Homo sapiens: one gene and its partners. The protein of the gene in region 3 interacts with the protein of the main gene of each other region in a pairwise test. Each region holds a gene or a part of one and is shown on either strand. Other genes may lie near its edges.

Region 1 (7,000 bases), on a different chromosome or scaffold from region 3:
CTAATTTGCAGAGTTACGACTTGATACATACATATGCTCGTCTGCCCCAACTGACGATGGCCCTGCCTCATCATCTTCAGTCCTCATCATTGCCAAACTAGCAGGCATCTGCATGTACTTTTGAGGTTTTTCCAGTCATTTCTCAGTTGCTTTTTTTTAAAAAAAAACTTGTTCTGAGTTGTAGGTTGAGTTAGCCTTACCTCTAAATAGGTCACGTCTACATTATATCTTATGAAAATACCTCAACTATTTATTCAAGTGGAAGTCAACCTTTCAGAGCTTCCAGAGCCAAAGCAAATTTGTTACAATTTTATGTTTTAATCATAATAAGTATAGTAGATTCCATTTATTAAATGCTTATTATGTACCAGCAATTGTGCTAAGCATGTCACATATTTTGGCTATTTTAATAGGGACTAAGATGAGGGTAGAAATAGGCATGTGTGCTAAATGTGTGCGAAAATCATCTTACCTACAGTTAGAATAACTTTAAATGATATTATGAGCTCTCAGTTCTAGCAAATTTAATACTATCTCTAGCATATATTAACTTTTAAAGCACTAAGCATGACCATTTAAAGGTTACGAGAAAAGAGGCAGTATTCAATGTTACTGACAGGCATGATACAAAATTAAATGGTAACACAAAACCAAACTGTATAATAACTCCAACTAATGGAGTTCGGTGATAATTTTCTCTAGGTCAAAGGTAAAGCAAGTTGTTTTAATATCTATGAAGCTAGTGACCTAAATGATCAGTATTAAATATTATAATACAGAAAGCTTATTTTTAATATCTTAAAGAGAAAAACTCTTTGTGATATTTTATACAAATGGATAGCATTAATTCTGCATCATTCCTTAGACAGAACAAGAAAACACTGGATCTAGGCAGACAGATATTCAGTGAGTCTGAATGTGTGTCTGGGTGGGTTTGTAGGTTTATTTAGTTTTTACTGAATAAATCATATCAACTGGTTGTTGAATACGGAGCTTCAAATAGCACTGATTATTTAGAAGATATTAAATTACAGCAACTTGATGAAAATGTATTTTTATATTCTGACAGCCACTATTCCCACCAACCTCATTATTTTCCATGAGGAATTAATGAAAATTTTATGAGCAATTGGTACAATGACATAATAAAGATGTTACCTCAATTGGAGGCAAACGTGGGAAACGAGATCATTAAAGCTGTGACAGGAATGTCCATCAAGGAAATAAAAATAATCTTAAAGGAGTTAATAGAAAACTATATGAATGAGAAGGAAATATGCAGAAAAAGATAGATTTTGGCCTAAGGAAAGTAGGACAGAATCAAAGTAAAATATGGAGAACTCTTCAAGTCTTTTCCTGATTGAACTGTAATTTGTGCCAGTATGTGATACTCTAACACTTATCAATCAGATAAGAGAAAAGCAGAAAAATAGATGATAATTCTTATAGCCAACATTTATTGAGGGTGCACAAAGGACCAGATGCTCTGCTAAACACTATCAACACCTAACTTCATTAAATAGAGCAAACCCCACTTAACAGGTGAGAAAGCTAGGAGCCAAAAATGTTAATTCTCTGGCATACAACAGGAAGAGCTAGGAAGGGTTTGTACTCAGTTTATTCGCCTAATAGAGGTGTGCTGATAGTTCTTTTTAAGCAAAATGTGGTGCAATTTTAGGTCAAGAAGGACCCGACTAACAAGCAAATAGAACACCTAGACCTATTTGGATTCTGATTTCTCAGTGAAGACCTTTCACACCAAGTTATTGAATTAGCTGATTAAAAAATATTTTCAGAAAGAAAAGAAAAACGATTTTGATAACATAACTCACAGAACTGGGATTATTTTTGGCTTTACGATTTGAGTTAATGTTTTTTTTTTCAAGCTTTGTGATAGAACACTATCTGAAAATAGCTACTTTTTCCTCCTTATCACATCTTTTTAAAGTTGTTCTGTATGATTAAAAAGATTAAAATTATTATGCCCAAGTCTTTAAATGAGGGAAGAATTGTCCAAACCAGGAAGGCATTCTAAAATGGGTTTCTATTATTTTACTGTTACAGTAAATTTAGTCTGTTTTGGTAAAAATTACCAGTGATTGTGAGTAATCAATGGAATATGACCTTTTATACTAGTGAAAATTTCTTTCTTTTTTCAGTTTTCCTTTTCTGTTATCATACGCTTGAACTTATGGCCTAATATCTGGAACAACTGAGGGAAGTGGGCTGCCCACATCTCTTCTCTCCCAAGCCCAGGTGCAGCCTTCACAGTAGACAGTGAGGCCCCTGGTCACACAGTCAGGGGAAGAAATGCAGCTCCTTACCCTCAACTTCCAGCTTCACCACTTTGGAATATGCTGTCCCGAGGCTGTTTTTTGCCACACATCGATACTGTCCTGCATCTTCCTTTTGTACGTTATGAATCCTCAAGCTCCCAGATTCAAGAACTGCAATTCGGGAATTTTCCTGCCAGAGATAGGGACGTGAATTCAAAAATGTTTATGGGTCTATCAAGGATACATTTGCCAAATATCATCAACTTATTGTCATCACTATTATCATCATCAAAGATATCGCTTTGACCTTTATTGGCCACTTATTATGTAAAACATACAATATTAAATGAAATAGTGCAAGAGTACCTAAATTAATCTTCACCAGGGTCCTATGAGGTATAGTTTATTTTTATTTTCTTTCATCCCATGAGTGTGTGTATATATATATTATATATATAATATGTATATGTATAATATATATATGTATATGGGCTTATTTTGCTTCCCCAAAGTCACAGCTAAATCTGATTAAAAGCATTGCTTTTAGAAGGGGGAAATGTTGCAGAGTGGGGTGGTGAGACATACAAAACTATATACTGGGTATAATGTACAGCACTCAGGTAATAGGCACGCTAAAATCTCAGACTTGGCCACTATACAGTTCATCCTTGCAACCAAAAACCACTAGTACCCCAAAAGCTATTGAAATATGAATAAATAAACACATTGCTTTTAACTATCAGGTTTACCTTGCACCCTAGATGGTATCTTTAGAAGAGTACATGTCCTTTGAAATACTAGAAAATTTCACACATAATATTAAAATTACTCTTTGGAGTTTAAATATTACATCTGTCTTTTCTGTTTTGAACCCTAAATTCAGTAACATAAGTACAACCACCCTTGTTTGTCATTGTAGGAAATGCACCAAGATTTATAACAAGAGGAAAGCCAGATAATTAATCATTAAAAATTAGCAATATTTATTTTATTTTAAATAAAGCAAAGCTGAGCAATTTTATACCTTAGTTCAGTTAATTGACATAAAGTGACACCTTTGTATTCCTCTTAAAATATACTATGCATTGTTAAATGAAAAACATAGTCTGTAATCTTTTAGGTGATATAAAGATGGAAAGACAATAATGATGCCTCATAATAATTTATCAATAAATGTGGGGATAAGATACAGAGGCAGTACAAAATAAGCATATGGATAATAACTTTTTTTTTTTTTGAGATGGAGTCTCATTCTGTTGCCCAGGCTGGAGTGCAGTGGTGAGATCTTGGCTCACTTGCAACCTCTGCCTCTCGGGTTCAAGTTATTCTCCTGCCTCAGCCTCCTGAGTAGCTGGGATTATAGGCACACACCACCACACCCAGCTAATTTTTGTATTTTTAGTAGAGACAGGATTTCGCCATGTTGGCCAGGCTGGTCTTGAACTTCTGACCTCAGGCCTTGGCATCCTGAAGTGCTGGAATTACAGGCGTGACTACTCTTCATGACTCAGGAGGGATTTGCCAAGGTATTTGTGTATGAGTCTTGAGTCTTTTCGCCTAACTTCTCTCCAGAGATCTCATTTCTTTTCTTCCGAACCTTGTCTCCCTCCCTCCTTCCAGAAACTGTCAGTTCTAAAGCCTGGGTTTTAGTTTTTCTTTTTCATCCCCTAAGTCTCAGATTCAACATTAAAAAAAAATAAATGATTTAGCCAGCCAACAAATACAAAGGATTCCAGGTTTGCTTTTTCATTGCCTCCTTTTCTATCTTTAACATTATTGGTTCCCATCTCTTTTTTCCCTAGCCAGACCCAAATGAAATGCCATGCAGTTTGCATATATGCAAACAGAAATATTTACATTTGGTTAAAATGTACATGGAAACTACTTTATACTAGAAGTTTGTAAGTGTGTAACTGAGTGTGTAAAGAAATGTTATATTTTAAAATACATTTTATATATGTGTTTTAACATCATAACCACTTACCCTGAGAGGGCTGTCTCCCTTTATCCAAGACACTGATGGTTTGGGATTACCCATTGTAGTACATGGTAGGACTGCTTTTAATCCCTCTATTATTTTCACATTTATGGGAGGACGAGTTATTTTAGGTTCTAAAAAGAAATGAAAATTCAAAATAAATAAGGCAATATGGCTTTATTAAACCTAGAGTTTCTAACTTTCAATTTAATTCTAAACATCTGTTTTGAGAATCATTTGAGGCATGTTACATTACAAAATTCACCAAATGCAAAGACAGTTTTCCTCAGTAGATCTCAAACAGAAATCAGTTTAGAAACACTTGGTTGTCTCTGCTTTATTAGAATCTTACTAGCAAAACACAAATTTATGAAAAATATTAACAGTGTGAAGTTACCATAGCATTCTTCATTTTAAAAGATAGTTAATAAAAGCTGATTAACATAGACTGTCACCATAGCAATTCAACATTATTTAATTCATACTGATAGACATAAAACATTTGAAAAGAAAATTTTGATATAACTATATTCTTACCTAGTTAGAAATTATGACCTATTTTCCCTTTAGCTTCCATCTTAATTTGACTATTAAATTTTATGATTATTAATTAAATACATTCATTCTCTAGAAAGTAAACCAGATATTATTATATTAACAATCAGAAGAAATTCTGTCATACAATTTGGGGGGACTCAAACATGTAATTTACTGTTCAAACACTTTTAATCTTTCAGAAGAAATAGTTTATGCCAGTTAATTTTTATTCTCAAATATGAAACTTTCAAAGAAAGTTATTAAATCTAATATACAAAAGAATTGATAAGTTCAGGATGCCAGTTATTTTAGTACTATTCGTAAAATAGTTAAAACTACATTTATGTCCTTAGGAATTTTACGTTACAGATACAGAGGGGGACTTCGCAAGAGAGACTACTGAGCAATGGACACATTTTATTTCTTGCAGGACATGTGCCGTAACCAATTTGTTATTTTGACAAAGGAACGCATGAAATATGGACTTTGTTTTCTTCTACTTCAATGTGAGGGAGAGGAATGGGGGCTTTGGTGTTGTTGGTGGTAAGAGATACTTGCAAAGCCTTCATGACCTGTTGGGTTTTGTTTTTTTGTTTTTTTTTTTTTTTTTTTTTGAGACGGAGTCTCGCTCTGTCGCCCAGGCTGGAGTGCAGTGGCGCGATCTCGGCCCACTGCAAGTTCCGCCTCCCGGGTTCATGCCATTGTCCTGCCTCAGCTTCCCGAGTAGCTGGGACTACAGGCGCCCACCACCACACCCGGCTAATTTTTTTTTTTTTTTTTTTTTGTATTTTTAGTGGAGACGGGGTTTCACCCTGTTGTCAGGATGATCTTGATCTCCTGACCTCGTGTTCTGCCCGCCTCGGCCTCCCAAAGTGCCGGGATTACAGGCGTGAGACCTGTTGGTTTTTAATCTAAGCATTCACTGTCATTTAGAGTTCCTGCGGCCCTGTGTTATAGCAAAAATACAAGAAAGGCTTTAAAATATAGGAAAATAACAACTTTATTACTTTGCCTGCTATCTATAGCATACAACTCTCCTTCTAATAAACTGTAAATACCTACATGTAAATACAGTACTGGCCAGGTTCCTCAATTGTGAGTTGTATTGTCATACAGTTGCTGGGAAAAACTTAGCTGAGCACTTGATATTCCTATGACAGTCAAATAAAGTGTTATCTATGCCTTCCATAGGTTCCCTGAACAAGATCTCTATGGTAAAGCTGAGGCACAGATAATGTCTTAGGTAAAGACCTTTGCTTAAAGCAAAAATCTCCTATCTTCTCAGTGACTTGATGTCTTGGTCATCTGTTAGGTGAGGGGTGAGGAATTCCCTTTTGGGAAATTGAATGTAAAGTCAACTAGGAATGACTAGGGTATTGACGCATAGCCATGGATCCCCACTGTAAGGGAACATGATTCAGGGTGGAGTCATAAGTACTGACCAATCAGAACTGGTCACCTTAAAGCAGGATGCTGGAAGTATCCCGCTGTGCCAGCATTGAGACTTTAGCTGATGGACCATTAGGAATTTAGGGGAGGGAGCTCTTGGGGGAGGGCTTAAGAGAGCTGGAGTAGTGATAGGGGTTGGGGGATCTCGGGAGCCTTATAAAACGGATCTTTCCAAGAAGTATGGAAGCATTCCAAAATTTTAGCAATTGGAATGGCCACACCGGTGTATATCCACATGAATGGATGAGATCTCCAAAGGAGAGGTTGGAAAAAAGAAGGCAAGAAAAGAAAAGGGGATTTAGTATAGAACCCAAATCAAGAACAATTGGGCCAGAGAGAATATGCAAAAATATTCAAAAGAAAGGTAGTGTCACAAAGTAAGGAAATACTTGAATGTGTTTCATCCTCAGAATGAAGTCTTCATTATTTAGCAAATGAGAGCATTCCAACTTCCTTATTTGATTTCTTACTTCTCTGCATACTGAAGGGAAGCCTGCATATAGGCAGATCCCCACCTACTTACTCACAGTAAGTACCAAATCAGTATTCCATAAAGTCATGCTATTCCCACCAGCTTTTTATCCTAATTAACTGAACACTCCATGTATATTTATTATGATCAAAAAATAAAAGATCAATTTGAGAAAAATTGTAAACATAAAAGGATGGAACCCAAACAAAATCAATTTTTTTTTTTCTGAAGGAAATAAAAGTAATGCAGGGGAAAAAAGAAAATGTCTTTTTAAAAGATGCACTAGTG
Region 2 (2,555 bases), on a different chromosome or scaffold from region 3:
TCCCAGGATAACCACAGGGTGCCAGACACACAGACCCTGCTCTGCTGTGTGTTCCCTGGCTTGGGTGGGGGCATCTGGCATGAACAGGTGATGTCATCAGGGCCTCTCCCTTGCCCCATGTCTGCCCACTTAAAGTCTGTCCTATGACACTCCAGAAAATACCTACCCAGTGGACCGATATAACGAACATAACAAGGGGTGAAATTAAGATGAGGTGTCCGGGACTGGTTGGTTCTGCTTGGAGGCTAGACACAAAGGTTCCCTGCCGGGCTCAACCACTTCTGGTCCTGAGCAGGAGATAATAGCAAGATTGTCCTGCCTCACTGCCATGGCAACCCTGGCTGCTCGGGTCCTCATGGAGGTGGTGTTTGACAGCAGTGTATTTATCCCGTGTCTCTGCCTTAGGGTCACCACCTCGAGTCCCAGAGGAGGGAGAAAGGAAGTTCATCCAGTGTTAACACCATGTAGATGGAGAGATAATGGGCTGCCTGGGACCAGGGTACAAACAGGCCTCAGCATTTATTGTGCCTTCTCCAGTCTTCCCATGAGAGGCAGGGGTGGGGGCGGGGCTGGGTGAGGGTGAGGGGAGGGAGGAAGATGAGGCTCTGAAAGCCTTAAGCATCCAGGGCTAATCATTGAGGGGAGGGACTGAAGAAAGGGTGACTGTACTCCAAGGGATGCCCCTGGAGAAAAGGAGGAAGGAGCACCAAGCTTGGGGAGCCCTGGGCAGGGCAAAAGGAGAGGAGGAGGTGAGGGCGGGCAGGCTGGGAACCACTCCCCAGGCCCCTGGGTTCTCCCCATGCCACCTGGTCAGTGGAGCTGAGGGGAGGAGGTGAAACCAGTGGCAAGCAAGGCAGTCATGTGGAGCCCCACCCCCCTCCCATACATGCATGGAGAGCGCCCCAGGCCTGCTTCTGATTGCTCATCTGATTTCAAACATGTCGCTGGCCCTACCTGTCCAGAGGAGACCCCAAACTGAGGGGCAGGGCCTCTAGGGTGGGCGGGCCCCCTCTTCCTAGTCTGAGTGGGGTCCCTACCTCTGAGGGCAGGACATCTCTCCCTGACCTGATCTCTACTCCTCTGGCTTTGACCCTGCTTGCTCTCCCCCGAGGGACTCAGAGTCTGAGAAACTCCTATGGTGAGACCCCTCTGCCCACCCCCACAGCCTTCCCTGCTCCTGTTCTCTGCCCCACCCTCGGCCATCCCTTGCCCTGAGTTGGGGTGGGGGTGAACATTCAGGCGTCTCAGCCACAGAGGTCGGGTCCCTTCCTGTCTCCCCATGGGAGGCCAGCCAGGGAATGAGGTGCCCCTCAGTGCCCTGGACCCCCATTTTGAGGGCTGCAGTCTCTTGGAGTGGGTGAGGAGTCAGGCTCTGCATCGGTGGTAGGCAGGGAGCCCCGGGCCCCCCGGCATTCCGGGCTGTAGTAGAAGGAGAGGAGGCGGAAGGAGGGCCGCAGCTCCTCCTGTATGCTGTCCAGAATGTGTGTGAAAGATGGGCGCAGGCGTGGGTTCGGCTGCCAGCAGCGGCTCATCAGCTCCTGCCTGGTGGGTGTGGGGAGCAGGGTCAGAGGCATCCGGGAGCCCCTGCCACGCTCTCAGCCTCCTGCACTGAGGGTCAGTTGGTGGGAGTGGGGATCGTGGGCCATTATGCCTGGGAGGGTGAGAAGGGATTAAATGGGAGTCTTGGGGGTTTGGGATAGGGGGGTGGCGCTCATAGCTGAGGGTCAGTGGATGTCAAAGCATCAGAGGAGGTGAGCCAGAATCATGGGGCCGGGTGGGGGAGGGTTGTAGGTAGATCAACAATGAGGAAGGGGCAGGGGAGGTGACTCACAGCTGAAGGGGACAGCCCTCCAGCTCCTCCAGGACCCCGCCATCCATGACGAACTTCAGCACCTGCTCATTGGACAGGCCCTGGTAGGGTTGTTCTGCCAGGGTCACAATCTCCCAGAGTACCACGCCAAAGGACCTGGGGGCATGCAGGAGCTCCTGAGCCCAGCACCCTTCGTGCTACTCAGTGCATTCCAAGGGATGGGGGTGTTCCAGGCCCCTCCCCAGATCCCGCCTCCACATCCCTGGAGCCCTGTGCTCCAGCTCGGCCCCACCAGACATCCGAGTGGGTGGTGAAGATCCCATCTTTGAGGGACTCGGGGGCCATCCAGCGCACGGGCAGCAGCCCCTTCCCACCCTTGCGGTAATAGTCTGTCTCATACACGTCCCGAGTCATCCCGAAGTCTGGAAAGTGAGGGTGAGGGTGGAGGAGGTGTGGGGCATAAGAGCCACGCACTAGCTCCTGCCCCTGGGATACCTCTCCCAATCTTCTCATCCTCCAGAGTCACCAAGAACCCTGGAAAGTAGGGGCTCAATGGACCTCAGAACTCATCCCATCCAAACCCCTCTGCCCTTGGACAAGAGACTAAGATACAGGGTGGGGGTGACTTGCCAAGGGTCTCACAGGCTGTCAGGACCAGGGCTGTGGGTCTCCTGATGCCTAGCTTAAGGGAGTCTCTCTACTTTTCAGGCCGCCCTCATCTGCCTGGCACCCTCTGTACCCCCGA
Region 3 (7,166 bases):
CCTATCTTTGAAAAAAAAAAAAGTATTTCTTTCATAATTATAAAAAATTCAGGCCGGGCGCAGTGGCTCACGCCTGTAATCCCAGCACTGTGGGAGGCCAAGGCAGGCGGATCACGAGGTCAGGAGTTTGAGACCAGCCTGACCAACATGGTGAAACCCCGTCTCTACTAAAAATACAAAAATTAGCCAGGCGTGGTGGCACATGCCTGTAATCTCTGCTACTCAGGAGGCTGAGGCAGAAGAATTGCCTGAACTTGGGAGGCAGAGGTTGCAGTGAGCCCTGCATTCTAGCCTGGATGACAGAGCGAGACTCTGTCTCAAAAAAAAAAAAAAAAAAAAAAAAAAATCAGTGTTTTGGGATATTCCTTTTTAATAACTAGTTTTAATAAACTAAATATGGTGTAAAAAAAAAACACTACAAAAGTAAAGAGTCAGCCCTCCATATCCAAGAATTTCATACCTGTGGATTCAACCGACAACAATAAAAAACATTAACAAAAAATAAGGTAAAATACAACACTAAAAATAATAAAAATAAAATCCAATACTATTCACACAGCACTTACACTGTACTAAGTATTAGAAGTAATCTAGAGATGATTTAATGTATATGAGAGAATGTGCACAGGTTATATGCAAATATTACACCAGTTTATATAAGGGACTTGAGCATCTGAGGATTTTGTTATTCATGGGGGTTCCTGGAGGCAATCCCCCATGGATATCAAGGGTACCATGAAAAATATGTCCCTCGGCTGAGCGTAGTGGCTTACGCCTGTAAATCCCAGTGCTTTGGGAGGCCGAGGTGGGCAGATCACGAGGTCAGGAGTTCGAGACCAGCCTGGCCAACATGGTGAAACCCCGTCTGTACTAAAAATACAAAAATTAGGCCAGGTGCGGTGGCTCACACCTGTAATCCCAGTGCTTTGGGAGGCTGAGGCAGGTGGATCAAGAGGTCAGGAGTTCAAGATCAGCCTGGCCAAGATGCTGAAACCCCGTCTCTACTAAAAATACAAAAAAAATTATCTGGGAGTGGTGGTGGGCACCTGTAATCTCAGCTACTTAGAAGGCTGACGCAGAGAATTGCTTAAACCTGGGAGGCGGAGGATGCAGTGAGCCGAGATCATGCCACTGCACTCCAGCCTGGGCAACAGAGCGAAACTCTGTCCAAAAAAAAAAAAAAAAAAAAAATTAGCTGGGTGTGGTGGCACATGCCTGTAATCCCAGCTACTCAGGAGGCTGAGGCAGGAGAATCGCTTGAACCCAGGAGGCAGAGGTTGCAGTGAGCCAAGATCACACCACTGCACTCCAGCCTGGGTGACAGAGTGAGACTCCATCTCAAAAAAAAAAAAAAAACAACAACAACAAAAAAAAACAAAATTAAAAACGAAAGAAAAATACGTCCCTCTACCATCACAGGCCCTGAATTTTCCTTCTTAGAAGCAATCACTATGAAGTTTCTAGCCTCTTGGTCCAGAAATTTTCTATGCATATATTAAGAATAAATATATGGAATGTAGTATATATATATTTACTCAACACATTGCAAATATATACATTGTTCCACACCCTGCTTTATTCATGTAATGCATTATCTTGGAGATCATCCCAAATCCAAACACATACATATATTTCATTCTTTTTCATGGTTACATAGTATTCTATTATATGTTCACACAATGTATTTTAGAGTATGTATCTTGTATTTACAGATATTTATAGATTGGTTTCATTGTAAAAATAAAGCAGAGCATTAAATTTTTTTTTTTATTTTTGAGACAGAGTCTTGCTCTGTCGCCAGGCTGGAGTGCAGTGGGGCAATCTTGGCTCACTGAAACCTCTGCCTCCCAGGTTCAAGTGATTCTCCTGCCTCAGCCTCCTGAGTAGCTGGGACTACAGGCATGTGCCACCACGCCCAGATAATTTTTGTATTTTTAGTAGAGACGGGGTCTCACTGTGTTGGCCAGGACAGTCTCAATCTCGACCTCGTGATCCACCCTCCTCAGCCTCCCAAAGTACTGGGATTATAGGTGTAAGCCACAGCGCTGTTTTTTTTTTGTTTTGTTTTGTTTTGTTTTTGAGACGGTGTCTTGCTCTGTTGCCCAGGCTGGAGTGCAGTGGTGTGATCTCGGCTCACTGTAACCTCTGCCTTCTGGGTTCAAGCAATTCTCCTGCCTCAGTCTCCTGAGCTGCTGGGATTACAGGCATGTGCCACCACGCTCAGGTAATTTTTGTTTTAGTAGAGATGGGGTTTTGCCATGTTGGCCAGGCTGGTCTCGAACTCCTGACCTCAGGTGATCTGCCCACCTCGGCCTCCCAAAATGCTGGGATTACAGGCGTGAGCCACCGTGCTGGCCTAAAATATTTTTAACATATATACTTTTACATAGATATTGAAGGAAGAAGCTGCCTCCCAGGATAGGAGCAAGGTGGCTTGGGTTAAGAGAAAAAGTAGAGTTACTTTCATTATATATGTTTACATATCCTTTCACTTTTGTACCATGCGTAATATACTCTATTTTAAAAATGAAGTTAAAATAAAGAACATTAAAAACCATTACATGCTCAACTGAACTTACAAGATAAATAAGAACATCAAATGAGATACCATTTTTACTCCATTAGACTTTGAGAAATTAAAAATGTTTCACAATTCCGTCTTGGAGAGATACTAAGGGAAGAGTCACTCTCACATACTTGATAATGGGAATGTACACTGATACAACGCACTGGAAAACAATCTGCAACATCTATCAAAATTTAAAATGTTCATACTCTTATATCCAGCAATTCTGCAAATAAGCCCTATCAATATGCTCACATATAAATTGAGTAATATGTACAATGATAGTCACTATATGCTATACATATTAGTACAAGGCCAGAAACAATCTAAATATCTAACAGACTAATTGAATAAATTTTAGTATAGCCATACAATGGATTACAATGCAACTTAAAAAGAATAAGCAGTTTGATATACATACCGATATAAACCAATCTCCAAAAAATATAAAGTAAAAAAGAAAGCCAATGTAAAAAAAAATTTATCTATAAGACTATGCTCATAAATTTAACCTAACACTCAAAAACTACCCAATAAAGAGGTAACAGTAGATGCTGTTTCCCTAAACCTATCCCCTAGATACTCAATTCCTTTATCCCTCAAGAGATAAAATAATGTACACTAAAACCTATTTTTCAGTATACATTATTTTTAAATTCTTTTTTATTTTTACTTTCCCAGAAACTTCTTGACAATATACACTCTTTTGAACCTTTAGAATTCTGCATTATGGGCATAATTTATTTAAGTATTTTAAGTAAAATTTATTTTAAAAAACTATGTACTATATGACCCATTTTTACAAACTAGATATGTACAGAAACAACTGATGGTACAAAACCTGAAATGAAACTTCATTAAGTGTTTTACAAATCATAGCAATAATTCTTACCTAAATAACTGCTGAAAGTTTGGTTTAATAAAGTTTGCTTCAATATTTTGTCGTATGCATATTATATGGGTTATTCCATGTTTCTGTAGTACAGGTAGCTGTATAAAAAAAAAAGCAGGGGGAGGACAGGGAAGATAAATATTTTAAAATATCAAACATCATCTTACTATATAACACAGATGTTTGAAAATACACAGAACCCACATCTCTGCTTAAGTCCAGGGAATTAAAGCTAATTTTATAATATACCTGAAGTGGGCAGCAAGATATTTCAATGATTCAAGATTAATACATTAATGTCCTCAAAAGGTTAACAGGGATATTTCATACCTACAATTTTAGAGCTTGATGGAACCTTTATGTAAGATGTTTGGCATAGCACCTGGGACACACAGCAAGTGTTTAATAAATGGTAGTTAATATATATTGACTGCAATCTTTATTGTTTAGAGAGAACCACTAAGACATAAAACAGTTACATTACCAAATACTTGGACATCACCGACCTAGTTAACAGCAGTACTGGAACCCAAATCTCTAGACAACTCCTTGCCTCTCCCAGTATACTTTAAGAGTCAGAATTAATTTACATACTTCACAGAATCTAATTAACCTTTTACCATTTAAAAATTTTCCTGAAGTTAAAAATGGCAACTTCAATGACATCTTATTATATTCAATACAGGTTGAGTATCCCTTATCTAAAATGCTGGTCCCAAGGTAGGACCAGAAGTGTTTCAGATTTCAGATTTTGAAATATTTGCATATACATACTCAGATGTCTTGGGGATGGTATCCAAGTTTAAACACAAAATTCATTTATGTTTCACACACACCATATATACTCTGAACGTAATTTCATACAGTCATTTGGTGCATGAAACAAAATTTTGACAGTGACCCATTACATGGGGTCAGGTGTGGAATTCACTTGTGCTGTCATGCTGACACTCAAAAAGTTTCACTTTGGAGCATTTCAGATTTTTCAGATTAGGGATACTCAACCTGTAGTGCTTTTGGCTCCATACTTAAAGCAATTTAACATGACAATTCTAGAAATTACCAGATAATAAGTTTTCATTTGCTAGTGATAAGTTTAAGTGAGTTTATAGATGTTATTTTATTACCTAGAGCATTAAGTTCCATGACAGAAAAGATTTTTATTTGTTCACTGATACATAGTATGTGTAAAATGTATAATACAATTCACTTAAGTATCAAGTATGTATAACTAGTTAAGTTGTTCAATAATTACCTGTTCAATAAATGAACTAACAAGTCACGATGGCATGAGAATCAGATAACCTTGAATTTCTTGACACATTGTTTTAAATCCTATATATTTAATTCCCATTTTCTGCATTTTAAATAGTACAAAACAGTAGCACTAATAATTCATGAGCAAAGTAAAAAAAAATAATTTATATGTGTTATGAACTAAATGTTTGCATCACCTCAAATTCTTATGTTGAAATCCTTACCCCCAAGATGTGATGGTGGAGTCTCTGGAAGATAATCAGTTTTAGATTGAGGTCATGAGGGTAGAAACCTCCATGACAGGATTGTACCCTTGTAAGAAGAGGCAAGAACTCGTTCTCTTGGCCGTGTGAGGATACAGCAAGAAGGGAGGGATCTGCGAGCCAGCAAGAGGGTCCTCACCAGAGCCGGACCATGACTGTGGACTTGCCAGCCTCCAGAACTCAAATAATCGTCTGTTGTTTAAGCCACCCTGTCTATGGTATTTTGTTTGAGCAGCCTGGGCTAAGACAATATAATTTGCAAGTTTTAAGTGTTAATTTCTGCAGCAAGTTTTATGTCAGCATAGATTAGAATTCAATTATCTTTGTATTTCTTGAGTATAACTTGAGTTAGGGAAAGTGAGATAAGCATTTGGTAAGATTAATAATTAACCAATGTTCTATATTGAGATTTGTGCCAATTTCCACAACAAATTCAACATTAAGTCCTTCGTTTACACTTGATGCCTATGGAGTTTTCCTATCTACTTTATGAATGTGAGAAAGCACAAGACGATGCACATAATTATGTATAAATATGCTTAAACAAGTTTTGAAGGCCCAATAGACTACTACTAAATAAAAATAAACTATCAAAATAGAGCCCTAACGTAACAGCGAATAGATTTTGTACTTTTCAGAGGCAGATCTGCAATTACTTTTGCACCAACCTAATATGAAGCAAATTATGACCTTACCTCACATTTAAAAACAGTAGAAAAACTTTACAAAAACAAACCGTTTACTAATTACAAAGGCCCTAAATTTGTCCCTTTTATTTAAACTGTATTTGAATTTAATAAAAAGATATACTTAAGTAAATGTGGCCAGCATAGCCAGACTCCATCTCTACAAAAACTTTGAGAATTAAGCCAGGCATGGTGGTGTGTGCCCGTAGTCCTGGCTACTTGGGAGACTAAGGTGGGAAGACAGCTTGAGCCCAGGAGTTTGAGGTTACAGTGAGCTATGAGAGCGCGCCACTGTACTCCAGCCTGGGTAACAGAGCAAGACCCCACTCCTCTCCCACAAAATAATAACAGTAAATGAGTGTTTAAAAAGGAGTTTATCCATTTAGGTTTATCTCCATTATTATTTTTTGTTGTTGTTTTTAGATAATGGTATGAAAAGAAATATGGGCTATATTATGGTTACCTAGGGTGGGAAATAAACTGCCACAGAGGCTTTTCCTGTCTAATAAGACCATGGTGACATTTCAAGAAAAGAAGTTTTGAAGAACTAGACCTTTTTTTGTGCGTGTTTTTGTTTCATTTTGAGACAAAGTCTCACTCCGTCAACCAGGCTGGAGTACAGTGGTGCCATGTTGGCTCACTGCAACTTCTACCTCCCAGATTCAAGCAATTCTCGCGCCTCAGCCTCGCGAGTAGCTGGGATTACAGGTGTGTACCACCATAACCAGCTAATTTTTGTATTTTTAGTAGAGACGGGGTTTTGCCATGTTGGCCAGGCTGGTCTCGAACTCCTGGCCTCATGTAATCCGCCTGCCTCAGCCTCCCATTGAGGAGATAGACCTTTAAACAAATACTTTAATTTAATGTGATAAATACTGTATGTATATTTATAAAGTACAGTGGGAATTTCAAAAATGTAAATTATCTAAAACCATCTGGAAGACTAGTACTTGGTGAATAGCAAATTATATGGACAATAACCTTGTTTACATCTGTCTTTTACAAAATAAATTACGGCTATGTCTATAGTTACCTGCCCTATCCTTTCCCTAGTACTTATTTTTACTAACTCCCTATCTTTCCAACTAAGCAAAAATCATCAAGATGACCAGGTTTACTCTTAGCCATGTCTCAACTGTCAAAAAAATCTTCCAGTTTCAAAATCAATGACCTTTTAAAACCGGTTAAATTCCTAAGAACATCAAATTAAATTATGGATATATCAAACACAATTTAAGTATACTGACTTCTGAATAGGCAAAGTATTGGGGAAAGACATCTATGATATGTTCCACGTTGTAACTCAAAGAGAATTAGTAGCATTGAATCTTTTAGAAGTGGCAAGAACATTGCTATATTTATTAAAATGAGATCTACCTATTTTAACTGCAACTGAGTAAGTCCATTAAAGTTTGACTATGTAGAATATCTATACGGATTGAATATCCCTTATTTAAAATGCCAGGGACCAGAAATATTTCAGAGTTTGGATTTGTTTGTTT

The links. The genes of interacting proteins can lie anywhere in the genome.
Region 1: the proteins of STYX (region 3) and MUSK interact in a two-hybrid assay, tested with the Homo sapiens proteins (one study listed by BioGRID and IntAct).
Region 2: the proteins of STYX (region 3) and INSRR interact in a two-hybrid assay, tested with the Homo sapiens proteins (one study listed by BioGRID and IntAct).

What each region holds. Positions count from the first base shown.
Region 1 is NC_000009.12:110,692,791-110,699,790, reverse strand, and holds part of MUSK (muscle, skeletal receptor tyrosine-protein kinase isoform 1 precursor), read right to left. Parts: intron 4,389-7,000; coding exon 4,261-4,388; intron 2,467-4,260; coding exon 2,325-2,466; intron 1-2,324.
Region 2 is NC_000001.11:156,839,563-156,842,117, forward strand, and holds the end of INSRR (insulin receptor-related protein precursor), read right to left. Parts: coding exon 2,550-2,555; coding exon of another isoform or gene 2,519-2,549; intron 2,233-2,518; coding exon 2,103-2,232; intron 1,967-2,102; coding exon 1,832-1,966; intron 1,543-1,831; coding exon 1,311-1,542; 3' UTR 501-1,310; downstream 1-500. UniProt on the Homo sapiens protein: Receptor with tyrosine-protein kinase activity. Functions as a pH sensing receptor which is activated by increased extracellular pH. Activates an intracellular signaling pathway that involves IRS1 and AKT1/PKB.
Region 3 is NC_000014.9:52,747,073-52,754,238, reverse strand, and holds part of STYX (serine/threonine/tyrosine-interacting protein), read right to left. Parts: intron 3,557-7,166; coding exon 3,459-3,556; intron 1-3,458. UniProt on the Homo sapiens protein: Catalytically inactive phosphatase. Acts as a nuclear anchor for MAPK1/MAPK3 (ERK1/ERK2). Modulates cell-fate decisions and cell migration by spatiotemporal regulation of MAPK1/MAPK3 (ERK1/ERK2).